4 linked regions of the Homo sapiens genome follow. The protein of the gene in region 1 interacts with the protein of each later gene in a biochemical or structural test. Each region holds a gene or a part of one and is shown in the gene's direction. Other genes may lie near its edges. The genes, in order: KAT8, BAZ2A, BAZ1B and H2AC8.

Region 1 (7,841 bases):
AGAAGGTCCGGATCCCTTCCCATCCACGGGCCCAGGAGGCCCAGCTTCTCTGCCAGTTCCCTTGGGTCTCTCGGGCCCCAGTGCCAAAACCATAGCAAATCCCATTTCTTAAGCTCCTGTAGTGTGTCAGGGACTTTACCTACTTCCTCTTACTTACTTTTCATAGGTAAGAAAACAGACAGAGGGTAAGGGCTTCGCTGCAGTCTCACAGCAAGGAAATGGCACAGCTGGGACTAGAACTCAGGCCTCCGGCACTGGTAGCCTCTTTTGTCTCCTAGTAGCTGTGTCTTAGTAGAAAAAATGACTTGAAGTTCAGTGGGAAAGACGAGAATGTTATTCGGCAGTTGCTATAGCCAAGCACCCTGCCAAGTGCTGTATATGTATAAGCTCCTCAAATCCTTCCCAACAATTCAACACACAGGAATAGTTACTTTTTTGGTAGGTGAGGAAGCAGGCTGAGAGAGATTAAGTAACATGCCCAAGGTCACACAGCCAGTAAAACGGTGGGCTGGAATTAGAATAATAATGCCAAACACTTGTTAGCCGGTGAGCAGAAGTATTCAGCTAAATGGTTTTTGTGTGTGTGTGTGTGTGTGTGTGTGTGTGTTTTGTTTTTTGTTTTTTTTTTTGAGACGGAGTCTTGCTCTGTCGCCCAGGTTGGAGTACAGTGGAATGATCTCGGCTCACTGTAAACTCCGCCACCTGGGTTCAAGCAATTTTCCTGTCTCAGCCTCCCAAGTAGCTAGGACTACAGGTACCTGCCACCACGCCCGGATAATTTTTGTATTTTTAGTAGAGACGAGGTTTCGCCATATTGGTCAGGCTGGTCTCGAACTCCTGACCTCAGGTGATCTGCCCACCTCGGCCTCCCAAAGTGCTGGGATTACAGGCGTGAGCTACTGCGCCCGGCCTAAGCTAAGTGTTTTAATACATGACCTCACTGACATTTCACAGTAGGCCTGTGAAGTAAGCATGCAGAAGAGCTACAGATAAGTTTAGGGACCCAGACAGGAATTTGATCAACCAGCTAAATTGTGCTACCTCAGAGCCAGAGGCCTTAGCAATGATTTTGGTTTTTTTCTTAAGAGACGGGAGTCTTGGTGTGTTGCTCAGGCTGGACTTGAACTCCTGGGCTCAAATGTTCTTCCTGCCTTAGCCTTCTAAGTAGCTGGGACTACAGGAGTGCATCCCTGTACCTGCCTTGGTTTTTTCTTGTATTGATACTTAATAATTGTACATATTATTGTTATTTTTTTTTTTTGAGACAGCGTCTTACTCTATCGTCTAGGCTGAGTGCAGTGGCACAATCATGGCTCACTTCAGCCTCAACCTCCTGGGCTCAAGCAATCCTCCTGCCTCAGCCTCCTGAGTAGCTGGGACCATAGGCACGTGCCACCATGCCCAGCTAATTTTTTATTTTTTTGTAGAGACGGGATCTGCTATGTTGCCCACACTAGTCTCAAACTCCTGGTCTCAAGCGATCCTCCTGCCTTAGCCTCCCAAAGTGCTGGGATTACAGGTGTGAGCCACTGCGCCCGACCAAGTCTCAGTTTCTAAATTTATAAAAATCAGGAGTGCACACCAGAGCAAGATTTGTCAAAGTCTCCAGACACCCAGACATTTGTTACTTTCAGCTATTGCAGCTTCATCCTTCTGAGTACATGAGTTAGTGGGCAAGCCCAACATTTAAATTTCTTTAAATGGAAGAAAGAAAGTGGATAAGATAGAAAAATCAGGGTGTTGCACTTTATTAAGTGTAGGTATTGTTTTGAGAAGCTTTTATTTCACACCCAATAAAAGTGTGCAGGATTCCTCTTGTTCCAGCCTTACCTTCCCGATGATCCTAGCACATACTTGTGTGTATATACAGACATGTTACAGTGCCAAGTGTACTTCCTACTGTGGTGTGATTTAAAAAATTGAAATACCCTAAACTGGAAGAACTCCTCAAGGTCTAAACTGCCGAATCGAACTTCCTATTGTAATGGAAATGTTCTATAGCTGTACTATCTAGTACCGTAGCCACTAGCCACATGTAGCTGTTGAGCACTTGAAATGTGTCTAGTGTGACGAAGAATTAAGAATTTTAGCTGGGCGCGGTGGCTTACGCCTGTAATCCCAGCACTTTGGGAGGCCAAGGTGGGTGGATCACCAGGTCAGAAGATCGAGACCATCCCGGCTAACATGGTGAAACCCCATCTCTACTGAAAAATACAAAATAATTAGCCGGGCGTGGTGGCGTGCACCTGTAGTCCCAGCTACTCGGGAGGCTGAGGTAGGAGAATGGCGTGAACCCGGGAGGTGGAGCTTGTAGTGAGCCGAGATCCTGGGCTCACTCCAGCCTGGGTGACAGAGTGAGACTCCGTCTCAAAAAAAAAAAAATTTTTAAATTATGGGTGCAGTGGCTCACGCCTGTAATCCCAACACTTTGGGAGGCGGAGGTGGGTGGATCACTTAAGGTCAGGGGATTGAGACCAGCCTGGCCAACATGGCCAAAACCCCATCTCTACTAAAAATACAAAAATTAGCCGGGCGTGGTGGTGCACACCTGTAATCCCGGCTACTTAGGAGGCTGAGGCAGGAGAATCGCTTGAGCCCAGGAGATGGAGGTTGCAGTCAGCCAAGATCATGCCACTGCACTCCATCCAGCCTGGGTGTCCGATCAAGACTGTCTCAAAAAAAAATTAATTATCATTTTTTAAAAAAATTTTATTTTTATTTTTTCGAGACAGAGTCTCACTCTGTTAACCAGGCTGGAGTGCAGTGGTGCGATCTCAGCTCACTGCAACCTCCGCCTCCCAGATTCAAGTGAGTTTCCTGCCGCAGCCTCCCAAGTAGCTGGGACTACAGGCACGCACCATCATGCCTGGCTAATTTTTGTATTTTTAGTAGAGATAGGGTTTCACTATGTTTGGCCTCAAACTCCTGACCTCAACTGATCCGCCTGCCTCGGCCTCCCAAAGTGCTGGGATTACAGGTGTGAGCCACCGTGCCCAGCCAAAATTTTCATTTTTTGAGACAGAGTCTCACTCTGTCACCTAGGCGGGAGTACAGTGGCGAGCTCTTGGGTTACTGCAACCTCCGCCTTCCTGGCTTAAGCAATTTTTGTGCCTCAGCCTCCCAAGTATCTGAGATTACAGGCGTGTGCCACCACACCCAGCTATTTTTTATTTTTTATTTTTAGTAGAGATGGGGTTTCGCCATGTTGGCCAGACTGGTCTGGAACTCCTGGCCTCAAGTGGTCCTCCCACCTCGGCCTCTCAAAGTGCTGGGATTACAGGCGTGAGCCACCACGTTTAGCTGAGTATAATTTTAAATAGCCCTATGTGACAAGTGGCTACTTTATTGGACAGTGTAGATCTAAGATTAATTCCTCAACTGTTTTGCACTCAACAAAGACATACCTCTGAGTTGGCAACCAGCAGGGTGGATAACGGGCCAGTGGTGATAAAATCAAAGAATAGGTAATGAAACAATCATCCAGTTAACAATCAGCAAGGTTCTTCAGAGCCTAATTAATGTTTAATTCTAAATAAATTGCAACAATTAAGAAAAGTAGTGTTTTTGTAGTTCTTTATTGCATTTGCAGAAGAGTACTGTATTTTGTGAGAATTGGGAAATGTGTTTTAAAGAGATGTGTGAGGAGGAAAATCTTTCTTCCTCATCTTTACAGTGGTTAGGTTCAGAATTGGACAGACCAGGGGCCCATGCCCAACTCTGCTGAGTACCAGTTCTGTGACCTTGGGCAAGTGACCTCACCTCTTTGTGCCTCAGTTTTCTCTCATACAACAGGGACAATGAGCACTCTTATTTCAAAGGCTCATTGTGAGGAACAAAATGAAATAATGTCGGCTGGGTGCAGTGGCTCATGCCTGTAATCCCAGCACTCTGGGAAGCTGAGATGATTGGATCATTTGAGGTCAGGAGTTCGAGATCAGCCTGGCCAATATGGTGAAAGCCCGTCTCTACTAAAAATACAAAAAGAGGCCAGGCGCAGGCAGACCACGAGGTCAGGAGTTGGAGGCCAGCATGGCCAACATGGTGAAACCCTGTCTTTACTAAAGATACAAAAAATTAGCTGGGTGTGATGGTGCACACCTGTAATCCCAGCTACTTGGGAGGCTGGGGCAGGAGAATCGCTTGAACCCAGGAGGCGAGGTTGCAGTGACGTGAGATTTTGCCATTGCACTCCAGCCTGGGCGACAGGGCGAGGCTCCATTTCAAAAAAAAAAAAAAAAAAAAGGCTATGGCTCATGCCTGTAATCCCAGCACTTTGAGAGGCCAAGGTGGGTGGATCATCTGAAGGTCAGAAGTTCAAGACCAGCCTGGCCAACATGGTGAAACCCCATCTCTACCAAAAATACAAAAAATTAGCCGGGCTTGCTGGTGGGCGCCTGTAATCCCAGCTGCTTGGGACACTGAGGTGGGAAGATCGCTTGAACTCAGGAGGTGGAGGTTGTAGTGAGCCAAGATTGCACCATTGCTCCAGCCTGGGCAACAAGAGCAAAATTTCATCTCAAAAAACAAAATAAATTAGCTGGGAATGGTAGCAGGCACATGTAGTCTCAGCCACTTGGGAGGCTGACGTAGGAGAATCACTTAAGCCCAGAAGGCAGAGGTTGTGGTGAGCTGAGATCTCCCCACTGCACTCCAGCCTGGGCGACAGAGTGAGAGTCTATCTCAGAAGAAAAAAAAAAAAACATGTCTGTGCCGTGCTTGCCACTTGGAATAAATGGCAGCTCACTAGTCCCCGAGGGTAAGGGACCTCACCTTGCCCTGCCTGTTTACTACTCTGTAAAATTGAAATAACGCAGCTGGGTGCAGTGGCTCACGCCTGTAATCTCAGCACTTTGGGAGTGCGAGGCTGGTTGATCACCTGAGGTCAGGAGTTTGAGAACAGCCTGGCCAACATGGCGAAACTCCATTGCTACTAAACATACAAAAATTACCTGGATGTGGCGGCATGTGCCTGTAGTCCCAGCTACTTGGGAGGCTGAGGCAGGAGAATTGCTTGAACCTGGGAGGCGGAGGTTGCAGTGAGCCGAGATGGTGCCACTGTACTCCAGCCTGAGCAACAGAGTGAGACTCCGTCTCAAAAAAAAAAAAAAAAAAAAAAGAAATAACACTCTATGTAAGGGTTACTGAAAGGATTAAATGAGGCCATATAAACATATAGGCACAGTGCTTTGTGGAGGGGGTTCTGGGTAAAGCACTGGCTCCTTCCTCCCTTCTCAGCTACAGGGCAGGGCCTTGTCTGCCCTGGTGTAGGTCATGGACCGTCTTGGGTCCCCCTTCCATTGTCAGGCTGTACTGGGTTCCTCCCACAGGGTCTGGCCTAGGAGCAGGATGTGTTGTGAGTGTGGTGTGACTCTTAGTCTCTGCTTTCTAAGGACTTGAAAAATAGAGGAACCCAGGTGGGCATACTTGGACAGTGTTGCCCTGTTGACCACTTCTCGCTGAACTTGGGAAGGAGGGAATGTTTTCTGGATGGGAAGAATCCAGTCAGGCCTCCTGGAGGGGGTGGTAAGAATCTCAAGCCTTGAAGGATGGGAAAGAGCACAATAACAACAGTGACAAAGGATAGATCACAAAGCATCATGGACTCACCTGACTCATGCTCCGTGCCAGGCTGAGGAAGTGTTTTCTGCTGGCAGTGAGAGAAGGAAGGGCATTCTCCAGGTAGAAGGAGCTGTTTGTGCAGAAGCATGAAGGCCGCTAAAAGGGGGCTGCTGATAGCAATGAGGAGGCTGGGGCTGGAGGCAGGGAGTCTGAGGCGGCCTAGTAAATTGTCCAGACCTGAGATGGGGCCATGACTACCTGGAGCAGGACAGAGAGGAGAATTCCAGAGAGGGCCCAATTCCAGAGATGTCAGAAGTAGACTCGACATCCACTGTATTAGGACTTGGCCAGGCCGAGGGAGAGAGAGTAGTCTGAGGCAAGCCTAGTTATGGGTCTTGGACACTGGGACCAAGGGTGATGTTCCCAGTAAAATGAGCAACCCAGGAGGAGGCGCAGGTTTGCAGGGAGGAGTGATGAGGTCCTTTCTGCACATCTTGAGTCCGCTGTCCCTGTGGGAGGGACCTCTGGGGCAGTCGCATGGGCAGGCAGGGTCTGGTCCTCAGGAAAGGGGTCCAGGAACATCGGGGAGGTAGTAACAGTTCTTACGCTGGGCCTGGAAGGCAAATCTGTTATTTCATTTGAGTCTCACAACTTTGGCAGAGCTGGATTGCCCCCCATCGTGCAGCTGAAGCCCCATCCTGATCCTAACCCTGTTCATCTGGCAAAAGGTCCAAACTTGGACATCAGGGATGTCTGGGATATCGGGGGTGGGGCGGGTGGGTGTGAGAGGAGTCTGGACCAGCCAGCTTCAGAACCAAGTCAGATAGGTTAGCTATTGGTGTGGTTATTATTGCCATCCAGGAATGAGGTCTGGTAGACGGCAGGGAAGCCTTGTGGGTCCTGACGGGAGGGACAGCCTGGTCACCACTTCTGTTCACCTCTGCCCACTTTTCTTTCCTGGCCCAGACTTATGCAGAGATGGACCCCACCACAGCAGCCTTGGAGAAGGAGCATGAGGCGGTAAGTGGGGCTGGGAAGCTGCCTGCAGGTCCCCCGTCTCCCCTTGCCGAGGAGCCCCTGCTGAGCCGTGCACTGTGCCTCACTCCCACCCTGCCTGCAGATCACCAAGGTGAAGTATGTGGACAAGATCCACATCGGGAACTACGAAATTGATGCCTGGTATTTCTCACCATTCCCCGAAGACTATGGGAAACAGCCCAAGCTCTGGCTCTGCGAGTACTGCCTCAAGTACATGAAATATGAGAAGAGCTACCGCTTCCACTTGGTGAGGCTGGGCCGGCCGGGCCGAGCTGGGCAGGGGCCCGGTGAGAGGCAGAGGCAGGCATGGAGACTGAGGGCGGCTGCGCCGGCAGCTCCAGGGAGGAGACAGGCCCAAAGGAGCGAGTACAGGGAAGAGCTGCTGGGGGTCAGGAGGCCTGGATTCCAGGCCTGGCTTTGCTGTTGCTGGCAGGGTGACCTTGCCAACTTCAGACCTCAGCTCCTCTTCTCTGGAATGGGGACAGTAACTCACCCCCTTCAGGTCTTTTGCCAAGGCCAGCTCCATCCCAGGAAGCACACATAGCCCCTGGCAGTGGGACCTTAAGTGTGGATGAAATTGGGGGCTGTCAGGAAGGGGCGCTCTCATCACTGACACAGTGGGCTGCTTCCCGAAGTGTGGAATCTGAAGCGAATAGGTGTGGTTTAGGGAAGCCATTGTCATGGACGGGTCCCTCCAGAGCCAGGCCCACAGAGACTCAAAACCCCACCGTGCTGTGTGATGTTTGGATCTCTGTGCCTGGGCCTTGGTCTGTAAAAGCAGGATCACTTTCCTAAGGCTGCTGGGAGGATTACTCGATGTAGGTGAAGTGTTGAGGGGGGAAACAGAGAGGCAGAGACTTGCTCCAAAGCATGCAGTGGTGGGTTGGGTGCCTCCTAGCAGAGAACATATGGGCAGCGAACCTGTTCTCTTGTCCCCGACCAGGGTCAGTGCCAGTGGCGGCAGCCCCCCGGGAAAGAGATCTACCGCAAGAGCAACATCTCCGTGTACGAAGTTGATGGCAAAGACCATAAGGTGAGTGGGTGGCCAGGGGTTGGGAGAGGCCGGGGAGGCCCTGGGCACCTCCCAGATGATCCTCATCACCACCAAAGGGGAGGGGGCAGCCTTAGCTGAGCCTCTATGGGCAGAATGCCTCTGAGGGGCCGGGCACTGCAGCTCACACCTGTAATCCTAGCACTTTTGGAGGCTGAGGTGGGCAGATTGCCTGAGCTCAGGAGTTTGAGAG
Region 2 (8,628 bases), on another chromosome or scaffold:
GCCTCCCCTCCCTCTCATTTTTCTAAGGCCTTTTAAGTCTGTCTTCTCTCCTCCCCCACCTTGACCCACCTTCAGGTGGGGGCTGCACTGAGCAGCTGCTTCCTGTTGCCCCAGAGACTGAAGCAAGGGTGGTGGTGGTTGGGGGAAAACTGAACCAAAGTCGATTCTCATGGTCCCACATCAGCCTCACCAGGGCTGCTATTGATGGCCCCCACACTACAGTCACTGAGGGCACTGAGTGGGACGCAGGATTGAGGTTGAGAGGATAGGAGGTTTTTGCCTTCGTGGCTTCCTGATTCCAAAGGCCCCACAGCCGTAGGGATGGAGCCCTGAGGAGCTGAAACACGGGGAACCAGTTCACCTAGTAGGGCGCTGCGCGTGACCCCCAGCAGGCTCGGCCTTGAGTTCCCTCTCCTGCACCCCTAGGCCTCCTAGGAGCCCATGTAGCTCTTTCTGCCTTCCCCGGCCTCTTTTGTGAAGCGGTCTTTGCTGGTGCCCTGGGAGCGCGGGCAGAGCTCTCCCAAGTCCTTCCTTTCGGACCTACCACCATCCCCCACTTCACCGCAGAAGTTTCTGTCTCTTTCTGGGATCCGTTCTCTTCCTCCCATCTGGGATCCTTCCTGGTTCTGGCCCCTAGGAGACGCCACCCGCTATCCTCTCCCCCAGTGGATCCTTCGCGACTGCTCTCCTGAGCGGTTGTCCTCACCTCGGTAGTTCCTGCCCCTTTAAGCACCACCTCCTCCCCTCCGCCGCCGCCGGCCCAGGGCTGGGGGAGGAGGCGCAGCCGCCGCCCGGCTCGGCCACCTGCGCCTCTGCCGCCGCCGCCGCCGCCTGCGGCCCGGCCCTGCTCCAGGTGAGGCCCGGCACCCACCTCCAGCTCCGGAGTCCCTTGGCGGGCCGTTCCTGCGGTATCCTGCCCCGGGATCCCTGCTGCCCCGGGATTCGGGATCTGACTCTCCCCCTGAGGGAGCTGCCCTTCCTCTCTCCCCTGAACTATCTACTCGCCCATTTTCCCCCTGTCCTCCGCGACCGGAATCCGGAGGCTTCTCACGCCTCTCCGCCATCGTCTCCCGAGTACCTTTCCTATTCTGGGCCCAGGATCTCCCCCTCCCCCGCGCCTTCTTCGCCAGAAAAATCTCCCGCGGTCTGGGTTTCGCCTCCTCCCCTCTGAACTAGCGCTTTCCCACGCCTTCCTAACCCCAATGGGAGGGGGGATACCCACCCCAACTCCTCTCCTTCCCCGTAGTAAGGGGGGCGGGGGAGCAACATCGACAGCACTATCTGTCCCTGCTCCGCTCAGCCCTTTAAGTTCAGCTAAGTCCCATCTAAACCTTTTCTGTAGTCCTCACCCCACCCTACATCTCCGGGAGCTTGGGGTCCAACCTCAGCACCGCCTACTGAGCCCAGGTGGGAAGGACTCTCCTCCTGGGCCTAGGGTTGGTCGGTGCAGCCTAGGAAGGCCCCTCCCCCAGAACCTGGGAGCTGGGGGCCAGGGCGCTGCCGGAATCTTGTGCTTCAGGGCCTCAGGGACAGTTGGGAGAGAGTGCGTGGGGAGCTGGGGCTAAATCTCTAAGGGAGTTGGGGCGATGGGGAAGGCAAGAGAAGTCCAGTCTTCTCTGTTCAGATGCAAAGGAAGCCCCCCGACTCCCTAGGAAATAGGGGCTTTCTCTAACTTCCAGGACCACCATAGAGAATCCCATTGGGAAGTTTGGAAACAAGTCTGTGTGAATCTGAGGAGCCACCTGTCGACTTAAAGGGGAGAAGGGGGCCGGGTGGAGTGTGCTCGCCTGTAATCCCAGTACTTTGGGAGGCCAAGGTGGGCAGATCACTTGAGGTCAGGAGTTCGAAACCAGCTTGGGCAACATGGCAAAACCTTGTCTCTACAAAATATACAAAAATTAGCCAGTCGTGGTGGCGTGTGCCTGTAATCCCAGCTACTATCGCTTGAACCTGGCAGGCTGGAACCTGGCAGGCGTAGGTTGCAGCGAGCTGAGATCACAACACTGCATTCTGGCCTGGGTGACAGAGCAAGACTGTCTCAAAACAAAACAAAACAAACAAACAAACAAAAGTGGGGGAAGAAGGGGAGGGGTGTTTTCCTTGTGATGTGTTATGGGAGAATCTAGCCTTCCCAGATTGTAGAGGGGGTGAAGACTTTTGCTTTAACCTGGTGGGGGGGTCTAGTTGGAATGGTTACCCGGCTAAGAGCCATCTCCCTGCTAGACAGATCCTGTTAACAGTATGATCCATTCAGCCAGTGAGGGGAAGGCAGGTCTTTAATAATTATCCCACCTCCATTAGAGAATTCCCCCTCCACCCCCAGTCCAGCTGCGCCCCTAGCTATGCTCTTTCATTTCCCACTCCTCACTTCCAGAATTAGGGGACTGGCTGCCAAGATCTGCTTCAGACTCTTCTAAGTCATGTTTGGAGGGGGTGCTGGGGGGAGGAGAGGGTGTTCAGCAGTGGTGTTTGGGGTTGGATGCCAGGAGTATCTGGTGGGGGAGAGGGAAGGATGTAGAGGGATGCAAACGAATCCCCTTCTCTCTCTTCCTCCTCCCAGCCCTAGCCATCTGGCTACAGAGTGGAGCCAGGCACTGTGGCAGCTGACCCCAGAGTCAGGGAGGTGCTGCAGGAACACAGGGAGGGTGAGAAAGGGGGTGCAGGTGCTAATTTGTCCCTCCCCATTCTCTTCATGACTAGTCCACTGGCCTGGCTTGAGGGAGGTTCAGCCTATTCCCTGGAGACTCTCCTTACAAGTTGCTGATAAAATGACCATTTGCCCCTTCCCCTTTCTAGTAGCTTCCTGAAGGGAAATGGGTGGGGAAAAGAGAGGTGGGTGGGTGATCAGCCACATCTGATGGGATTGAGGAGTGTTTCGGGACATTTGGGGTCAGTCTGCCCTCTCTCGTCTGGATGGGGGGAGAAGCACAGCTGCAGCATGGGGTGACTTCTAGCAAGAAGTAAACATCCAGCTGTTGGGCACACTGTCACCCCAACCTCATCCTTCCTCAGAGCAAGGAAGATCCTGATTAGATGAGATGAGGTGGGGTCTCATTCAGGAATGAGGATGATTGTAGTCTTTCTGCACCAGATGGGAAGAATGGATCCTACCTCATTTTCTTTTCTAATCCCAAGTGGTCCTCTCCTATCCAACACCCCTCTTCCTAACCGCTCCTGGCTGGAATAGTCCTAAAGGTTGCCCTGGAGACTAGGCCTGGGGCTCGGAAGGGGTGGGGGCGGTCAGTGGGGCACAGGAGTAACCGGCTCTTCCGGAGCAGAGTGGAGCCAGTGGTGGGTGTGTGTGGGTGTGGGGAGGGGCGTGGCTACACCCGTCTGACGGGCGCAGGCTCCTCCCCTGCCTGCCCAGTCCCCGACTGGCCCCCTTTAAGATTGGGAGCAGGAGGTAGGAAGATTCTCCCTCATCTGCTCTGGAAAAGGGCAGGGAAGACAAAAGGATACCAGCTTCCTTACCCACACCCCCATCCCGCCGCCCTTGAGGCCTCAGTTTTATGCCTTTCTTCACCTGCCTTAATTTTTTATTTGGGGATAGAGAGGCATTTCTTAGCAGAAGTTTGCCAGAGCCCTCCTTTCTCCAGAAGGAAGGAAACCTCTACCCTGAGTGTGACCTCTACTTACTCAGGGACTTGAGGTCAGCAGGCTGTTGGAGGAGTATTTTTTTTTCCCCAAGGTGACCTGTAAATCTGTTGTTTTGACAGGGAGGAGAGAAGGGTTTTGGTTTCCACCTGCCTATTCCCTCCACTGGTAATCTACTTATCTCGAGAGAGGAAGAGAAACCCCCTTAGCCTTCTGTGTCTGTGGCCCACACACTCTGTGAGCCTTTGCTAAAGCTAGCTTCCTTCTTATCCTCTCTGAGCCATTTGTAGTGGGGGGGTGGAGGGGTGGAGTCTTTCCCCAAAATTCAGGAAGAGCCCACCCCTCTGTGGAGTAAGGAAATCCAATGTAGACTGATGGATCTCACCCCCCAACTCTGCCCATTTTTCAGATCTCTTTCCTCCTCAGACCCCCAGAGGAAAACGTATTTGTTGACACCCCAACTTGCCAGAGTTTCATCATCCCCACTCTGTTGCTTTTCCAGAATATTCAGCAGCCTGAGCTTTGCACAGTTTAGGCAACTGTTTCTAGAACTGCATTGCATTGAATTAAATGGGAATTATCTTCAAGGCTGCAAAGTGTTGAGTTGCAAGGAAAGGAAACCTGGTTTCCTTTCTTGTCATATTTTATCCACTGTTTGACATTGAAGAAGTCATTGAACCTCTTTGGGTCTTAATTTCTTCATTTGATGAAGGAGAGAAGGTTGAACTAGAATTTTTTTTTTTTTTTTTTTTTGAGATAGAGTCTCCCTCTGTCACCCAGGCTGGAGTGCAATGGCGCGATCTCAGTTCACTGCAACCTCCACCTCCCAGGTTCAAGCGATTCTCTTGCCTCGGCCTCCTGAGTAGCTGAGATTACAGGGGCACGCCACCACACCCAGCTAATTTTTGTATTTTTAGTAGAGACCGGGTTTCATCATGTTGGTCAGGCTGGTCTTGAACTCCTGACATCATGATCCACCTGCCTCGGCCTCCCAAAGTGCTGGGATTACAGCCGTGAGCCACCGCGTCCGGCCTGAACTAGAAATTCTCTAAGCTCTAACATCATATGACACTGTTCTTCATCCTGGTGCCCTGCAGTGGACATTTTAGGTGACAGCCAAACTCTAGTCCTCTGCTAGATTTTACTTTTCTGAGTTTTCACACAGTTATGTAGCCCTGTCAGAAAAAAATTCCCAGAACCATAGAATGGGTGGACATTTGTGGCATCTTTTTGCTGATTAGTTTTCAGCTTATCCTTTACTTCTCTGACTGCATTTAGGCTACACTCAGGTCTTTGCTGTCTGGTTCCAGAGCCGAACCTTCTTTCCCCCACGCACAGGAATCTTTCCTTTCCGGTGACCAGGGCCCTGCAGATGTCGCCAGGAAAGTGGTGATCCAGGCAGGACCAGGCTGCACTGAAGGGACAGAGGTGAGTGGGTGGCTGACTCTTGCCTCTCCCCATCCCTTTACTGAATCGCGACCTGAGTGACTAACCTTTCTATTTCCACGTTTCCATTACCCTACCTGGGAAATAACTGCCCCCGAAATTCCCCTGACTCTTACCCCTACCAGCCTGTTAGAGAAGTGGCACCTGCCTTTGGGCCTAGACGTTTGGTCTAGTCTTTTAAGTTAACCTTGGGACTGTGGCATGCCTTTCAGTTTGCCCTGTGTGAAGCAGGACCACTGCCTCCATGAGATGCGGGTGCAGAGGGAGCTGCCAGGTGGGCAAGGTGGCCAGAGTTGCAGGAGGCACAGCGGCGCTAGGACCCAGGTCCGGGTCGGAAAGATGGGCTGGCGGGCTTTAGGACCCTGTGGCGGAGGCCGCGTGGGGAGACTCTCTCCCGGCCGAGGCTTCTCCGCCCCCTCCGGCTCCGACTCACTCCTCCCCCGCCGGCCATGTTGGCTCCTCTCGGGCCCCGCGGTTGAGCCGCGTCCCCCTCCCCCTTCCCGAACCCCGGACCCCAGACCCCCTCCCCAGCGGGCGTCTCCACCCGTTCTGGCGCCCGGAGCGCGGCCATGTGAACCGCTTGTACCCCGGGGAGAGACGAGCCCCGAGCCCGGCTGGACGCCGCTGCCTCAGGTTTGTGGGGTCTGTGGCCAGGGGCCTGAGGGGGAGGGAGCCCCGCTTTCATCCGAGGCTTCCCTCGGGGAACAGAAGCTCCAGAGCCGGCTTGAGCCTTGCCGGGGCGGGAAGCCGACGGGAGCTTATTTCCTGCGAGGATCCAACCCGAGGCGAGGGTCTCCTTGCTCTGGGGTCTGGGAGGAGAACAGGGCTGGTGGGGCTGCTGAGGACCCCGGACGGGGCCGCGGGGGCAGGAGGAGCTGTAGGGGCTCCCGGCGACAGTGAGGAGGCGGAGAAGCCGCCTGGCTGGTGGAGATGACTCCTGTGGGGGACTTGGGGTGGAATCCCCGGGAGGGGCTCCACCTCCTCGGGTGGGGGTGGGGATTGCCTGAGCGCGAGGGGTGGGTGAGGGGGTTCCCTTGGCGGGTTAAAACGCTCCGTTTGCGGGGAGCTGGGCGTTTTGACTGTGGTGAGTGGAGGGCGGAAGGGGTTTCCAGGGGTCTGAGGGTGTCTCCCTCGGGGAGCGCACCCATTCTCTTGAGCGTGAAGATCAGGAGAGGGCCTTCCTTGCTGAGGGTGGTGCTGCGCTTGGCTTGGGGCCCTCGCGTCCCGGGAGAATCGCGCACTCCGGGGATGGAGGTTGATAGGGCTTCCGCTGAGGCTTTCCAATTTGAGCTGGGCTGAGGGGCAGAAGGGAAGAATAAAGAGGAATTCCTTTTTCCAAGGAGATTCCTCACTGAGGGGATCCCCGCTTCCGTGGCAGAAAGATGATACCGCATCATCCCTTTCTTTCCCGGTGTTCCCAGTTTTCAGGAGAAGGCAATGTCAATAGCAGTTGTCCTTTGTAGGGTTAATTGGAGTGAGAGATTTGTCTGCTTTGGGGGACGACGGAGGGGATAGCTTTCCACCTCTATCTGTACACAAACAGCCCCTCCCCCAGCCTCCCGCAGGAAGTGGCCGGGAAATGGCAGCTGTGCGTTTGCTGCTGCGTGTCTTGTTGTTTTGAAATGTCCATTTTAATCAGATTTGGTTTCATTTTCTGAAGCCTTCTGGGCAAGCTTGGATCTTGCCAACCATGTGGCCCGAGAGACCTTTCGTTGGACTTTTTTTTTTTTTGTAAACTTGTCAACTGGAAGTAGTCAACTTCAGTTGACTCACGTATCCCAATCCCTTCTCCAGAACATCTCTGTCTTCCTGTCTGGTTTCGTTTTGTTTTCCCTTTAGCTAGAGGTCATAGAGAAGCAAACTCAGTTATCTACCAGCGGGGTACGCTCTATGTAAGTGATGCAAATTCCCTCAGCATAGAGAGCTGTCAGGGAGACTAGAGAGCTTTTGTGGCACGAGTAGCTTCTTGGGGTCCTACTTTAGTATAGTTATTATGACAGTTTCTATATTGCAGAGCACCTGAGCAAGTGAGCTTGTGAAGAAGGGTAGATTCTAAGAAATGGACGAAGAGGAAGGGGTGAGGAAGATTTAACTATTAGATGGATTTGTGTGTCGGGGGTAGGGACTGATTAACAGACTGAGATTGGTGAACTCAGTCCTTGGTGGTGATTCTAGCCTAAGGGCAGCCCCTGTGGGAAGCTTGTTATTTGACTAAGGGGTGCTGGAGATACTACCTTCTGCAGAATCAACTAATTAGAATAGTACAGTTTGTTATCATATGACTTACTCTTTAATCCATAAAAGAACGTCTCCCCTCTTATTCTTCTTGGAGATTGGTAAGCTTTTCCTCTGTTCCCTGCAAAGTCGTGCCCAGATTTTTTTTTTCTTTCTTTTCACTTGATAATCCCAGGATATTTCTCCTGTAACATATAGTGATGGACTGTGTGCTATGTCCCCAGGCATTTTGTGGCACACTGGATTTGGTTAGGGGCAACAGTTGGCCACAGAATTTTATTTTTCTTTCTTTTCTTTTTCTTTTCTTTTTTTTTCTTTCTGTCTTTTTTTTTTTTTTTTTTTTTTGAGACGGAGTTTTGCTTTTGTCGCCCAGGCTGGAGTGGTGTGATCTTGTCTCACTGCAACCTCTGCCTCCCGGGTTCAAGCGAGTTGCCTGTCTCAGCCTCCCGAGTAGCTGGGATTACAGGAGCCCGCCACCGCATCCAGCTAATTATTTTATTTTTAGTAGAGACGGCGTTTCATCATGTTGGCCAGGCTGGTCTCGAATTCCTGACCTCAGGTGATCTACCCACCTCGGCCTCCCAAAGTGCAGGGATTACAGGTGTGAGCCACCATGCCTGGTCTTCTCTTCTTTTCTTTTTTTTCTCTTCTCTCTCTCTTTTCTTTTCTCTTTCTTTCTTTCTTTTTTTTTTTTTTTGAGACAGGGTCTCACTCCGATGCCCAGGCTGGAGTGCAGTGGCGCCATCATAGCTCACTGCAGCCCCGACCTCTTTGGCTCAAGTGATCCTCCCACCTCAGCCCCCTGAGTAGCTGGGACCACAGACACGCACCACCACATCCAGCTAATTTTTTGTAATTTTTGTAGAGGTGGGGTTTTGCCAGTTTGCACAGGCTGGTCTTGAACTCCTGGGCTCAAGTGACCTGCCTGCCTTAGCCTCCCAAAGTACTGAGATTACAGGCATGAGCCACCATGCCCGGCCTATGACCCCAGGACCACAGGATTTTAGATTTTGAAAGATAAAGTTTTGTTTTTTTCTTTTTCTTTTTTTTTTTTTTTGAGATGGAGTCTCGCTCTGTTGCCCAGGCTGGAGTACGGTGGCACCATCTGGACTCACTGCAACCCTCGCCTCCCAGGTTCAAGCGATCCTCCTGCCTCAGCCCTCCAGTAGCTGGAATTACAGGCATGCGCCACCATGCCTGGCTAATTTTTGTATTTTTAGTAGAGAAGGGGTTTCACCATGTTGGTCAGGCTGGTCTCGAACTCGAATTGAGCCTCCCAAAGTGCTGGGGTTACAGGCATAAGCCACAGGGCCAAGCCTTGAAAGATAACATTTTCAGATTATTTGGACTATT
Region 3 (8,473 bases), on another chromosome or scaffold:
TTTTACCATGATAATACATAATTTGAATGCAACTGAAAACATTTTTTTAAGCAACAAGTCAGTATCATAGCAATTTTGGGCAGAAATAATAAAGGCCTGAAGCAGGTGCTGTGGAAAGACAGGAAGGGGAAACAGTTCAAGATTTTAGGCTGCTAGAATGGATGTTATCTAGTTGCCCCTGAGGCTGTGGAGCTCAAGAGAGAGGTCAGAGGCTGAGCCTGTGGGCTAAACAGGAAGGCGAAGCCATTAAGAGAAATAAAACCAGGGCCAGGTGCGGTGGCTCATGACTGTAATTACAGCACTTTGGGAGGCCAGAGTGAGAGGATCATTTGAGCCCAGGAGGCAGGAGTTTGAGAATAGCCCAGGCAATATATAGTGAGACGTGTCTTTATTAAAATATATATATATATATATATATATATTTTTTTTTTTTTAGATGGAGTCTCATTCTGTCACCCAGGCAGGAGTGCAGTGGCGCGATCTCGGCTCATTGCAACCTCCGCCTTCTGGGTTCAAGCGATTCTCCTGCCTCAGTCTCCCGAGTAGCTGGGACTACAGGCACACACCACCACACCCAGCTAAATTTTTATATTTTTAGTAGAGCCAGACAGGGTTTCACCATATTGGCCGGGCTGGTCTCCAACTCCTGACCTCGTGATTTGCCCGCCTCGGCCTCCCAAAGTGCTGGGATTACAGGCATGATCCACCCCTGCCCGGCCTAAAATAGTTTTTAAAATGTATTTTAAAAAAGAAAGAAAGAAAAAGAGCCAGGAGTGGTGGCTCACGCTTGTAATCCTGGCAGTTTGGGAGGCTTAGGTGGGTGGATCATTTGAGCTCAGGAATTTGAGACCATCCTGGGCAACATGGTGAGACCCTGTCTCTGCCAAAAACACAAAAAAAGAGCTGGGCATGGTGTTGTGTGCCTGTGGTCCCAGCTATTTGGGAGGCTGAGGTGGGAGGATCACTTGAGCCTGGGAGGTGGACGTTGCAGTGAGTTGAGATTGTGCAACTGCACTCCAGCCTGGGCAACAGAGTGAGACCCTATCTCAAAAACAAACTAATAATGTAGTCATTATAAAAACATAATCATAAAATATAGAAAAATATAAAGAAGAAAATCACATCAATTGTAATTCCAGTGAAAAAGGAGGGGTGAAAAAAAAGAAAAGAAAAAAAATTGTAATTCCAGGCCTGGTGCGGTGGCTTATGCCTGTAATCCCAGCACTTTGACAGGCTGAGGAGGGAGGAAACCTTGAGGCCAGGGGCTTGAGGCCAGCCTGGGCAACACAGTGAGACCCCATCCCCGTCACCGTCTCTACAAAAAAGAAAATACTTAGCAGGACATGGTGGTGTGTGCCTGTAGTCCCAGCTACTCTGGAGGCTGAGGATCTTGAGTCCAGGAGGTCGAGGTTGCAGTGAGCTGTGATCCCCCACTGCACTCACTCCAGCCTGGGCGACAGTGCAAGATCTTGTCTCAAAATGAGACAAAACGCAAAAACCATAAATCCATTTCCCCGAGATGAGCACTGTTCTTTATTTGGGGTCTCTTCATAAGCTCTATATGGTTCCTGAAGCTCAAGTTTCTGTACTGTGACCACCAAGCCCCACCTCCAGCTCCCACTTCCTCCCTCAGAATTTCCGGCTGTGTTCTGGATGGCTCTTCAGGGTACCTGGAGTTCACATGGCTGAAACCAAGCCCATTACCGATTTTCCCATCTCAGATCCCATCTTCACCAATCCCAGCAATGGATTCTAGCCCACAGCGGACCCAAGCGCTGAAATGATTATGGTGCCCAGTTCACATGTGCAAAGTGAGATGCTGTTCTGAAATATCAAATTGTTTTCTTTTGCTTTTTTTTTTTTTTTTTTGAGATGGAATTTCGCTTTATCGCCCAGACTGGGCACCATCTCAGCTCACTGCAACCTCTGCCTCCCGGGTTCAAGCAATTCTCCTGCCTCAGCCTCCCAAGTAGCTGGGATTACAGGTATGCGCCACCACGCCCGGCTGATTTTTGTATTTTTAGCAGAGACGGGGTTTTGCCATGTTGCCTAGACTTGTCTCAAACTCTTGGCCGCAAAGTATCCTCTCTCCTCAGCCTCCCAAAGTGCTGAGATTACAGGTGTGAGCCACCATGCCTAGCCCTGTAATTCCCTTCTAAGTAGTCACTCCGATTCAGCCATTACAGAATATATCAGGATGGTCACTTCCTTTACCATTCTCATCTGATATATTCTGCCTCAAATCCTCACATTTTGGGCACACGATCTTGAACTTCCAGGCTTCACTCTGCTGTTCTGTCTATAATGTTCGTCCCTCCTTCTCTGTCTAGAGAACTCTTTTCTTTTCTCAATTAACTCAAACGCTATGTGCTCTGGCAAGGCTTCTCCTGCTGTTCTTGGGAGAAAAGTCTACTGCCTCAAGGAAAAGGAACCGAGATCTTTTCTGCTAGGTGATCAGAGGAAACTTCACAGAGGTAGCTTTTGACCTAGACCTCCTAGTGGGGATAGGAGATCCTTGAGGTGAGAAGAAAAGGAGATAGAGGTCTGACATTAGGAGACTGCATTTAGAGACACCTCGCAGTCTAGCCCCGTTGAAGGACAGGCTGGGAAGGTACAGCTGGGAAGGTACAGGCTGGGAAACTTTAAAGTGAAGTTCTTTAAACTAAGGGAGACAGTTTAATAGGGAGATAACTTAATGAGTGTGTTTTTGATTGTACTGGAAAGCCAAACAAATTCTGGATGTGGGTGTTGTCTGCTTGGAGAAGCAACTGAAATGCTCCCCATTTAATAGCATTAAAATAGTTGATGCTATTTTCTTATTCTGCACTTTGTATAGAACTGTGATTATTATTATAATTTTTGAGACGGAGTTTTGCTCTTGTTGCCCAGGCTGGAGCGCAATAGCACAAACTCGGCTCACCGCAACCACCCCCTCTCGGATTCAAGCGATTCTCCTGCCTCAGCCTCTCGAATAGCTGGGATTACAGGCATGCGCCACCACGCCCGGCTAATTTTGTATTTTTAGTAGAGACAGGGTTTCTCCATGGTGCTCAGGCTGGTTTCGAACTCCCGAGCTCAGGTGAGGCGCCCGCCTCAGCCTCCCAAAATGCTGGGATTACAGGCGTGAGCCATCGTGCCCGACCAAACGTACCTATTTCCCCCCCCCCCCCGCCTCCCTGAGACGGAGTCTCGCTCTGTCGCCCAGGCTGGAGTGCAGTGGCACGATCTCCGCTCACTCCAAGCTCCACCTCCCGGGTTCACGCCATTCTGCCTCAGCTTCCCAGTAGCTGGGACTACAGGCACCCGCCACCACGCCTGGCTAATTTTTTGTATTTTTAGTAGAGACGGGGTTTCACCGTGTTAGCCAGGATGGTCTCCATCTCCTGACCCCGTGATCCGCCCGCCTCGGCCTCCCAAAGTGCTGGGATTACAGGGGTGAGCCACTGCGCCCGGCCCAGACGTACCTATTAAAGAGACATCCTGGCTGGGCACAGTGGGTCACGCCTAATCTCAGCACTTTGGGAGGCAGAGGCGGGACAATTGCTTGAGGCCAAGAGTTCGAGACCAGTCTGGGCAACAAAGTAAGACCCTGTCTCTACAAAAAAAATAAAAAATAAAAGGTAGATCCAATTCATTCAAATAGTATTCACTAGCACCTACAATGTTCCGAGCCAGGTGCTGAGTATCATGGGAGAAAAAAAAAAAAAGCCAGAGTCACAGCTCTGGCAGGGCGTGGTGGCTCACGCCTGTAATCCCAACACTTTGGGAGGCCGAGGCGGGTGGATCACCTGAGATCAGGAGTCCGAGACCAGCCTGACCAACATGGTGAAACCCCGTCTCTACAAAATACAAAAAATAGCCGGGTGTGGTGGCGCGCACCTGTAGTCCCAGCTACTCGGGAGGCCGAGGCAAGAGAATAGCTTGAACCCGGGAGGGAGAGGTTGCAGTGAGCCGAGACTGCACCACTGCACTCCAGCCTGGGCAACAAGAGTGAAACTCCGTCTCAAAAAAAAAAATAATGATAATTTTGGGAGGCCTAGGCGGTCGGATCACCTGAAGTCGGGAGTTTGAGACCAGCCTGACCAACATGGAGAAGCCCCGTCTCTACTAATAATACAAAATTGGCCGGGCGTGGTGGTGCACGCCAGTAATTCCAGCTACTTGGGAGGCTGAGGCAGGAGAATCTCTTGAACCCGGGAGGCGGAGGTTGCGGTGAGCCGATATCGCGCCATTGCCCTCCAGCCTGGGCGACAGAGCGAGACTCCGTCTCAAAAAAAACAAAAACCAAAAACCAAAAAACTAAGTACGTCTTTTAATCTATTTCTCCAAAGAAGCTTCTATATTCTACTTTCCAGCCAGCCCCTAGAAACAAGCAGTATACTTCTACCCAGATCTCAACCACACTCCCGCCCAGAAGTTAACTCTGGGGTGAGCAAAGCTGGCCCCCACGTTGTCCTTCCGCAGAACCTTTGGTAGGGTAAGCTCCCGGGGCCACTTCCCGCCAACCCCTCCCTGCAGCCCAGCCCCACCCGCGCATCCCCGGGCGTGGCCGAGCACGGCGCCTTTAAGAAGGGGGAGGCGCCCAAGAGGAAAGACAAAGCCCCTGGCCGCGCGCTCACCCTCCCCCTCCGGCGCACCACACGGACAGTGGTGCCCGGATGTCGGTGTCGCCGTCGGTGACAGATGGCGCAGTATCTGTATATGCGAGGGGCTTCTCCGGCTTGACCTCTTTGAGTTCTCGTCCTCTCCATCCCCCGCTGTCCCCCACTTTTAACTCTGCCGTCGGAGGCCCGCACGCCTATCACGGGCGCTTACATAACGTGACCTTTCACCTCTTCAGACTGCCCTCTAGTGCGCTGCAACCCAACTACGCGACAGGGGCAGGGGGGCGGGACCCAGGCGCGGAGCGGCAGCTCCTCCGAGCCAATAGGCTGTGAGCGCTGACCAGCTCTCCGCCTATTGGAGCATTCGCCACCGGCGCCACGGGGGAGCAAGTTAGTGTGTGCGTTGGCCGGGCCCGGGGGAGGAGGGGAATCTCCCGCCATTTTTCAATAATTTCCTCCGGTGCTGCTGAGGAGGAGTCGTGACTGCCGGCCGCCGGGACCCGAAGCGGAGGTCGGCGGGGGGCTGCTGGGAGGCGCGGCGGTGTGCGCGGGAGCTCTGCGCCGTGGCGTTCCGCTCCATGACTGTCGCGCGGCCGCGCCGGCGGTGAGGGAGCCGGAGTTCGCGCCGCCCTCTCACCCCTCCCTTCCCCCACCCCACCCCCGGGCGCCTGGCGCTCGCTCCGGGCCGCGGGGCCTAGTGCTGCGCCGCGGGGCCGGCCCCAGCAGCCGCCAGTCCCCACCGCCGCCGCCGCGATGGCGCCGCTCCTGGGCCGCAAGCCCTTCCCGCTGGTGAAGCCGTTGCCCGGAGAGGAGCCGCTCTTCACCATCCCGCACACTCAGGAGGCCTTCCGCACCCGGGAGTATCCTTTTCCAGCCGCGCGGGCCGGGCTGGGCCGGGCTGGGCCGGGGTAGGGCCTGGGGCTCGCGAGACCAGGTCAGCCGCGCATCCCCGGCCCGGGGCAGCTGTCAGCGCGCCCCGGCCGCTCGCGGGCCTGGAGGCTGAGTCTCAGCCTGCGCCCGCCGATCCTTCCAGGGGATCCGGCGGGGGGCGCGCACCGGCCCTGGAAGGAGAAGGGCCCGCTTCGGCCGCCCCCGGGGCCCCGCACTTTGTCCCGGGGCCTCGCCGGCGAGGAGCGCATCCCCCATCCCCATTACCTTCCCCGGGTTGGCTTTAGGCCTTGAGGACCCGAGAGGGAGGAGGAGGCGTGGGGAGGGGGAGCTAGGTTTTCTCCTTTAATTTTTACAAAAATTTTTTAAAAATTTAAATGAAACCTGCAGCTTAAGTTTTGAAATTGTACTCGCGCGGCCTCGTGATGCGGCGTGTGCAAGACTCAACTGCGTCTTACCCCGATCTCTGCGGGGATACTTGGCGTTTTTTTCGTCTCCCGAGGGGACTTTAGGCCGGGGATGAACTGACAGGACCCTGGGGCAGAAAACTAGGAATGAGATTCCCCGCTTAGAGGAAAGGGAGGGAAGGAAACTGCCTGTGGAGGAGCTGATGCCTGCCTTCCCTGGGCAGACACAGGTTTGAAATTTTGAAGGTTTAGAAGGAGATTGGTATTTGTTAAAATTAAACAAACAAAAAAACCAAGACGTGAAGTTTTTATGTTGTATTTTAGGAACATGAAATTGGATGTTTTACAAAGGAAGCATCCTCTCGTCATGACTAAGATTTCTTGCATAAGCATTATCTTTTAGTGAAAAGTTGTGCAGCTTTTATTTGCTTTTTTTTAATGGGTGCCAGAAGAATCGTTTTTGAGGCTTATCTGTAAAAAAAACAAAAACGATTTCGGAATCAAGCATTTCTTTGGTGACTGAAAGCTTTAAGAGTGAAGGCTAATGTGTTATGAGTTTTCTCAGCCCCTTCTGTTCGGAAGGACTTCATTTCTCAGTTTCTTGCTTGCTTCTGTATAGGAGGAAGTGTCTCTCAGAGTTATTTCATTTCTCCCTGATCCTCACTTTAACGCAGTACTTTAGAGGATAATCTCATTCTTGTTGGAGTGCAATTTGTGAGTGTCCCTTTGTGGGGAGTATACACACAAAGGGGCCTGGAAAATCAGTCCATGCTGGAGGAAGGCTCTTGGAGAAATAGAGCTGTAGCATCTTGGAGCTGAAGTGGATCTTGGAGGTGGTCGGGTCCTCGGGCTTGGTTTGCTGAGTTGGCCCAGAGAGTGGAGGTTGACTTGTTGAAGGTCAAATGATGAAAGAGGAGTAGAATCCACCGCTCTTCCTACCTCATCCCTGTAAGTCAATCAACAGAAGAAGGTGGAATGTTACTCCTTCACTTTCAATTAATTTAAATATTACCTCACTTTTTTGTCATTATGGTATAAGGTAAGGCACTTTAAAGTGGAGGGGTGGTGATCTGGTTTTTTTCTTGTCCTGTGAAGACTTGGAATGTTCTGGAGAAGTTCCACTAGCTCTACCAAATACTGCATTATACCGAAGTACCCCACTTTTTTTTTTTTTTTTTTTTGAGACGGAGTTTCCCTCTTGTTAACCCAGGTGGCAGTGCAGTGGCACGATCTGGGCTCACTGCCATCTCCGCCTCCAGGGTTCAAGTGATTCTCCTGCCTCAGCCTCCTGAGTAGCTAGGATTACAGGCGCGTGCCACCACGCCCGGCTAACTTTTTGTGTTTTTAGTAGAGATGGGGTTTTACCATGTTGGCCAGGCTGGTCTCAAACTCCTGACCTCAGGTGATCCGCCCATCTCGGCCTCCCAAAGTACTGGGATTAACAGGCGTGAGCCACCGCGCCTGGCCAGTACCCTACTTTTTAATACATTCGAATCGGCAGTGGAGTAGCAACTTGTGAGAATCCGACATATACTTTTCCAATGTCATTAATGTTTTGAGCCGTTGATGGATGCTCACACACTTTCAGATGATACTTTCTCAGGTCTGGTTCTAGCAGAGTATAAGAAACATGCCATAGAGAAGAGACAATTTCTAAGTATATTTCAGGTACTGAGCTATGTAAAAAATGGCTGTAGGAAGTTAATTTAGGACTGGCAACGCAGGCTTTTTCATATTATTGAATGAATGAAATTGAAATATATATATGAAGAGTTTTGATGGTAACAATTTAAAACTGAAACCGGAAACATTTTAAGTGGTATGTATTTAATAAACATTCTTCATTTTTTAATTTCCCATAACAGCATTTAAAACTGTTTTAACAAAAGAAGTCTTAAAACATATTATATATTGGGGGGAAATTGCTCTTTCGGGAATTTCTGCAAGTGGAAGCACTTTGAGGATGGTTTTTAAACAATTGTACTGTATGGTTGGCAGATTGGCATATTTCTTTATTAGGCTATTAGTGGTTTCATAGAGGAGAACAAATATGTGGTTAGGTAACAGCTGCCTTTGAAGTAGTATTCCCAGTTCTCAACTTATATTTACAATTATGTTTTTAATGGGACTTGATATTTTAATTTTCTTTTAATACCTACCTTTTGATTGCATGTATCACAGAACTTTGTGTGATATTTTACTGACTTAAAGCTGTATGTTGGTATGTTCTTGGAGTATATTGTGAATCTTCATTAAACTTAGTGGAAGTTGTGAGTAATGCACACATTTAATGACTAGGTGTTAAATATTGGTGATTATGTTGATTGTACTGTAGCTTTGTATGGTACATTACTTCCTAAGGTATTCCCACAGGCAGGACACTAGATCTTGGAAAACACTAACTTTATCAGAATCAGTTCTTGATGTGACACTGACTGTATTTAAGTCAAGATAGGTTTTAGGCAGGAATTGGAGCTACAAGCAGCGTGTTGTAGATGAGTATTTTTGTTGTGTTACTTCAACTGTCATAGTTTCTAAAGCTTAGAAATAACTAGTTCACGACCTTTGTAGCAT
Region 4 (5,909 bases), on another chromosome or scaffold:
TTCGATTTCTTTAGTCAGCGTATCTTAAATTTACTCTATTCATTTGTATATTGCATAGGATAATAGCTGGTATGTAGTTGGTGCTCAATAATTACTTGTGGAATAAATTAATTTTTCTTAACATACAGCAGGGAGACTTGGAGAGGAAAGGGCCTAGGGAGAGTTTCCTATTTCTTTTTTTTTTTTTTTTTTTTTTTTTTTTTGAGACGGAGTCTCACTCTGTCGCCCAGGCTGGAGTGCAGTGGCACGATCTCGGCTCACTGCAAGCTCCGCCTCCCGGGTTCACGCCATTCTCCTGCCTCAGCCTCCCGAGTAGCTGGGACTACAGGCGCCCGCTACAACGCCCGGCTAATTTTTTGTATTTTTAGTAGAGACGGGGTTTCACCGTGTTAGCCAGGATGGTCTCGATCTCCTGACCTCGTGATCCGCCCGCCTCGGCCTCCCAAAGTGCTGGGATTACAGGCGTGAGCCACCGCGCCCGGCCGAGTTTCCTATTTCTTAACCACACCATTGATAGTTTGGGATAGAGACAAATAGAGAAAGTTATCTTTAGAGGAGCTGTCTGTTGCACCAAAAAAAAAAATGTAACAGCACTGTTAACATCTTGGCATTGACCCTTATAGTCACTCTTTTTTCCTAAAACTATATGTGTGTGTGTGTGTGTGTGTGTGTGTGTGTGTGTGACATCATGTAAATAAGAATACACTACTTGGCAACTTGGATTTACCCCATACAATGCCATGAGCATATTTTATGTCGTTTTTTTTAAAGCATTCTTTTTAACAGCTGCATAATATTCCATTAGGGATAAAACCTAGTTTTAGGCAAAGTCCAACTCTTCAACATTAGTATTTCCAGTTGTTAGCCACAGTAAACAAAAATATGGACAATATTAACAAAATTAGAAGTTAAAATCAATGAGTTTGTATATTTTTAAATATTTGCAGAAAAGAAAAGGGAGTAGTCTGGAATGGGGACTAGATTTCAAACTTGGATGAGTAAGTGAAGCCAGGTAGAGTATCATAAGGTCTGTCTTGGTTGTGCTGAGTTTCAGATGCCTGTGAAATACTTATTTCATGTACTATTTAGAAGCCTAATCACCATAATTTTTGATATTGACTGAATTGCCTGACTGAAATCCAAGTCAGCCCACAATTCAAACATTGAAGTCCAATACCAACTACTTGAAAATGTGACTATTTGGAGATAAGGTCTTTAAAGGTGTAAAATGAGGTTTTAAGGGTAGGTCCTAATCTATTCTGACTGCTGTCCTTATAAGATGATATTAAAACACAACCCACACACACACAGGGAAGACCAGAGAGGGGAAAACCCAAGGAGAGTGGCCCCAGAAAAAATCAATCATGCTCACTGGTTTGATCTTGAACTTGTAGCCTTCAGAATTGTGACAAAATTAATTTTTTTAAGCCACACAGTCTTTGGTAGTTTGTTTTGGCAGCCCTAGCGAACACACTTCTCAAACATTTTCATTCTGGGAATACTTTTCTCCACACCTTTTCTATGTTATGCTAGCTTTTGTACTCCACAAAGACAAACACACAGAACACAGATGCACACCCACCCCTACTGTATGTTGTAGGGGAGGAAAGAGCGTTTCCTTTTACCCATCTTATGTTCATTGGCTGGGGCCCTGAAACAAAATACAGATTAACAACAGAAAAATATACACTTTATTTTTATTTTGATTTATTTATTTATTTTTGAGACGGAGTCTTGCTCTGTCGCCCATGCTGGAGTGCAGTTGCCCGATCTTGGCTCACGGCAAGCTCCACCTCCCGGCTTCATGGCATTCTCCTGCCGCAGTCTCCCGAGTAGCTGGGACTACAGGTGCCCGCCACCACACCCGGCTAATTTTTTTCAATTTTCAGTAGAGACGGGGTTTCACCGTGTTAGCCAGGATGGTCTCGATCTCCTGACCTCGTGATCCGCCCGCCTCGGCCTCCCAAAGTGCTGGGATTACAGGCGTGAGCCGGCGTGAGCCACCGCGCCCGGCCAAGAGAAAAACATTCACATTTAATATGAAGTTTTACATGACATAAGGAAATAAGGACCTGAAGAAGGGCTTAAACCTGAGTGTGTTTGCACTAGGTTTGATGAAGAGAGTCATGCAGAAATATAACAAGACAAAAATAATATGAGCTAAGGATAATAAACAAGGAGAAATCTAGCAAGGTTTATTTGTTCAGATTCCTCGCATACTCTGCAAGACTCCCAGGAGGGTCTTAAGACCTGCTTCAGAGGAAGGTCATACGAACATTCTTGTCTATGTTGTTCTACTAATGTCTTAGAATATTTACTATGTCAAGGCGCCATACTTTGGAGTACTATGTTGTCAGAAACCTGAGGTTGCTCATGGAGTACTATGGAGTAGTGACCTTTTTTTTTTTTTTGGTCCCATTTTAGAAATTTGATTAATGAGTATAAACTAATGGTTTCTATGTTTGAGACGGAGTTTCGTTCTTGTTGTCCAGGCTGGAATGAAATGGCGGGATCTTGGCTCACTGCAACCCCCGCCTCCCGGTTTCAAGCGTTTCTCCTGCCTCAGTCTCCGAAGTAGCTGGGGTAACATAGGCATGCGCCACCACGCCCGGCTAATTTTGTTATTTTTAGTAGATACGGGGTTTCACCATGTGGGTCAGGCTGTTTTTGAACTCCTGACCTCAAGTGATCCACCAGCCTCGCCTCCCAAAATGCTGGGATTACAGGCGAGAGCCACTGCGCCCAGCCAGCCAAAACTGTAATTTTTTTTTTTTTTTTTTTTTTTTTTTTTTTATGAGATGGAATCTAGCTCTTTCGCCCAGGATGGAGTGCAGTGGCGCGATCTCTGATCACTGCAACCTCCGCCTCCCGGGTTCAAGTGACTCTCCAGCCTCAGCTTCCAGAGTAGCTGAAACTACAGGTGAGTGCCACCACGCCCGGCTAATTTTGTTTGTATTTTTTTAGTAGAGACAGGGTTTCACAGTGTTAGCCAGGATGGTCTCGACCTCCTGACCTCGTGATCCGCCCGTCTCGGCCTCCCAAAGTGATGGGATTAGAGGCGTGAGCCACCGCGCACGGCGGAAAACGAGATTTTTTAGATCAACTTTACATTGCCAATGCCCATGGTATTCCCTCCACAACAAACTCCACAAGAGTGCTCAGAAAAGTCAAACTTGTTATCAGGTGATCTTTAGGGACCCAAAGACTACTCTTCCTACCCTTTCCAGTGTTGCCCAGGCTGGAATTGCACTAGCGTATTCACATGTTCCTGCAGTCTCTAGCCCGAGAGTTTAAGCTATCCTACCACCTCAGCCTACCGAGTAAATGATAGTACAGACGCAAGCCGTCACACCTGGTTAGCTTCATTTTTTTGCAGAGACGAGTTCTATGTTGCCCAGGCAAATCTGTTAACTCCTGAGCTGAAGAAAGCCTCATGCATCGACCTCCCAAAGTGCTAGGATTACAGGATCTTGCCAACACAGAACAGGAGTATCTCCTGATCAATTTTTTTTGAGACGAAGCCTCGCCTTTGTCGCCCAGGCTAGAATGCAAAAGCGCCATGTCTTTTCACTGCAACCTTTGCTTGCTGGGTTTAAGTGATTCTCCTGCGGCAGCCTCCCGAGTCTCTGGGATGACACGCGACTGCCCCACGCCCGGCTAATATTTGTATTTTTAGTAGAAACGAGATTTAACCACGTTAGCCAAACTGGTCTCGATCCGCACGCCTCGGCCTCCCAAAGTGCTGGGATTACAAAATCGGAAAAATTATTCCCTAGAAAACGGTGAAATTCAATATTAAAGCTCTTTATGTGAGACTTGAGTGGCTCTGAAAAGAGCCTTTGAGTTTTAAAGCACCTAAGCACACATTTACTTGGAGCTTGTATACTTGGTGACAGCCTTGGTACCTTCGGACACTGCGTGCTTGGCCAGCTCTCCGGGAAGCAGCAGACGCACGGCGGTCTGGATCTCCCTGGAGGTAATGGTCGAGCGCTTGTTGTAGTGGGCCAGACGGGAAGCCTCGCCTGCGATGCGTTCGAAGATGTCGTTAACGAAGGAATTCATGATGCCCATGGCCTTGGATGAGATGCCAGTATCGGGGTGAACCTGTTTTAGCACCTTGTACACATACACGGAGTAGCTCTCCTTACGACTGCGCTTGCGCTTCTTGCCATCCTTCTTCTGCGCCTTGGTCACAGCCTTCTTGGAACCCTTCTTCGGAGCAGGAGCTGACTTAGCTGGTTCAGGCATGCTGTCAGAAAACAATAACAGCAGTGAGAATGAACGCACTTAAATAAAAGCTCGTGTCTAGAGTCTCTCCTTTTATAGGCCTTTCATGCAAATAAAGAATTCAAAATATCCAGCTCTGATTGGGCAATGTGTTAGTGACGCATACATGTAAAATAGCCTTCACCTTATTTCCTTTCTAATTGGTTGGCTCGTCAAAGAACAATTTTAACCAATCAAATTGCGCCTTTCACAATTCTACCGATGACTATAACTAGCTTCTTATTCCTCCATCGAGCCCATTCTTTTTCTTTATTCAGTGGATTGTTAGTTCTTCTGCTGTTAGGAAGCCACTATGTCTGGACGTGGAAAGCAAGGCGGCAAAGCTCGGGCAAAAGCTAAAACGCGTTCTTCCAGGGCCGGTCTTCAGTTTCCAGTTGGCCGTGTGCACCGCCTCCTCCGCAAAGGCAACTACTCCGAACGAGTCGGGGCCGGCGCTCCAGTGTACCTGGCAGCGGTGCTGGAATATCTGACGGCCGAGATCTTAGAGCTAGCTGGCAACGCGGCTCGCGACAATAAGAAGACCCGCATCATCCCGCGCCACCTGCAGCTAGCCATCCGCAACGACGAGGAGCTAAATAAGCTTCTAGGTCGCGTGACCATCGCGCAGGGCGGTGTCCTGCCCAACATCCAGGCCGTATTGCTGCCTAAGAAGACGGAGAGCCACCATAAGGCCAAGGGCAAGTGAAATGATTACTAGTCAAATCCGTCAGTGATCCCGAGTCCCAGAAACCAAAGGCTCTTTTCAGAGCCACCCACCTTTTCTGTAAAGTGCTGGAATACACATACGATGCCTGAAATCTCAATGTTCACTGTCCTAATTTTTAACGAACGCTTCTGACGTTACTGGTCAGTTCTTTATTGAAATCCTTGCTCACATTTCATGCACTAATTTATCTTACTGGTGTTTCTTTGCAGTAAAAATGCGTTTATAAAGGTATACAAGAATAGAAACCGAGGTTGTGACACCAAGGTTTCACTGCGTTATTTTGTGTATAGGTCCATGCTGTGTATACAAATTTATCATTAATACACAGGCTGTTTATTCATGTGCACTTGTCAGAAAAGGGTGAAATATTAATACAGAAACGAGAGAACAAAGAAGGATAGCTGCCCATTAGCATTTCAGGGCGGGCTTTTTAAGTTTTAAAGATGACTGCATTCCGGCTGGGCTCAGTGGCTCATGCCTGTAATCCCAACACTTTGGGAGGCCAAGGAGGGCGGATCATAGGGTCAGGAGTTCGAAATCAGCCTGCCCAACATAATGAAAGCCCGTCTCTACTAAACAAATACAAAAAGTAGCCGGGCGTGGTGGTGTGCATCTGTAGTCCCAGCAACTTGGGAGGCTGAGGCAGGAGAATCGCTTGACTCCGGGAGGCAGAGGCTGCAGTGAGCCGAGATCACGCTATTGCACTCCAGCCTGGGTAACAGAGCAAGACTACGTCTCAAAAAAAAAAAAAAAAAAAAAGACTACATTCCTCTAGTGAGAATTGTGTTTGTTGGATTTCTCTTTTCAAAAGGAGCAATTAACACAGTATTCTAAAATAAACACTAAACGAAACTAAGCAGTAACGGCCTGACGCCCTAGGTCAGACCTGTAATCCCAGCAATTTGAAAGACTAAGG

Evidence for each region.
Region 2: of the proteins of KAT8 (region 1) and BAZ2A, one has a biochemical effect on the other in vitro, tested with the Homo sapiens proteins (one study listed by BioGRID).
Region 3: the proteins of KAT8 (region 1) and BAZ1B form a complex in vitro, tested with the Homo sapiens proteins (one study listed by BioGRID).
Region 4: of the proteins of KAT8 (region 1) and H2AC8, one has a biochemical effect on the other in vitro, tested with the Homo sapiens proteins (one study listed by BioGRID).

Annotation. Positions count from the first base shown.
Region 1 is NC_000016.10:31,120,510-31,128,350, forward strand, and holds part of KAT8 (histone acetyltransferase KAT8), read left to right. Parts: coding exon 1-5; intron 6-6,525; coding exon 6,526-6,579; intron 6,580-6,679; coding exon 6,680-6,844; intron 6,845-7,540; coding exon 7,541-7,630; intron 7,631-7,841.
Region 2 is NC_000012.12:56,627,170-56,635,797, reverse strand, and holds the start of BAZ2A (bromodomain adjacent to zinc finger domain protein 2A), read left to right. Parts: upstream 1-5,471; 5' UTR 5,472-5,673; intron 5,674-6,026; exon of another isoform or gene 6,027-6,124; intron 6,125-7,054; exon of another isoform or gene 7,055-7,117; intron 7,118-8,628. UniProt on the Homo sapiens protein: Regulatory subunit of the ATP-dependent NoRC-1 and NoRC-5 ISWI chromatin remodeling complexes, which form ordered nucleosome arrays on chromatin and facilitate access to DNA during DNA-templated processes such as DNA replication, transcription, and repair.
Region 3 is NC_000007.14:73,518,818-73,527,290, reverse strand, and holds the start of BAZ1B (tyrosine-protein kinase BAZ1B), read left to right. Parts: upstream 1-4,997; 5' UTR 4,998-5,357; coding exon 5,358-5,464; intron 5,465-8,473. UniProt on the Homo sapiens protein: Atypical tyrosine-protein kinase that plays a central role in chromatin remodeling and acts as a transcription regulator. Involved in DNA damage response by phosphorylating 'Tyr-142' of histone H2AX (H2AXY142ph).
Region 4 is NC_000006.12:26,212,396-26,218,304, forward strand, and holds H2AC8 (histone H2A type 1-B/E), read left to right. Parts: upstream 1-4,525; 5' UTR 4,526-4,579; coding exon 4,580-4,972; 3' UTR 4,973-5,042; downstream 5,043-5,909. Other genes in the region: H2BC8 (histone H2B type 1-C/E/F/G/I), read right to left, coding at 3,868-4,248. UniProt on the Homo sapiens protein: Core component of nucleosome. Nucleosomes wrap and compact DNA into chromatin, limiting DNA accessibility to the cellular machineries which require DNA as a template.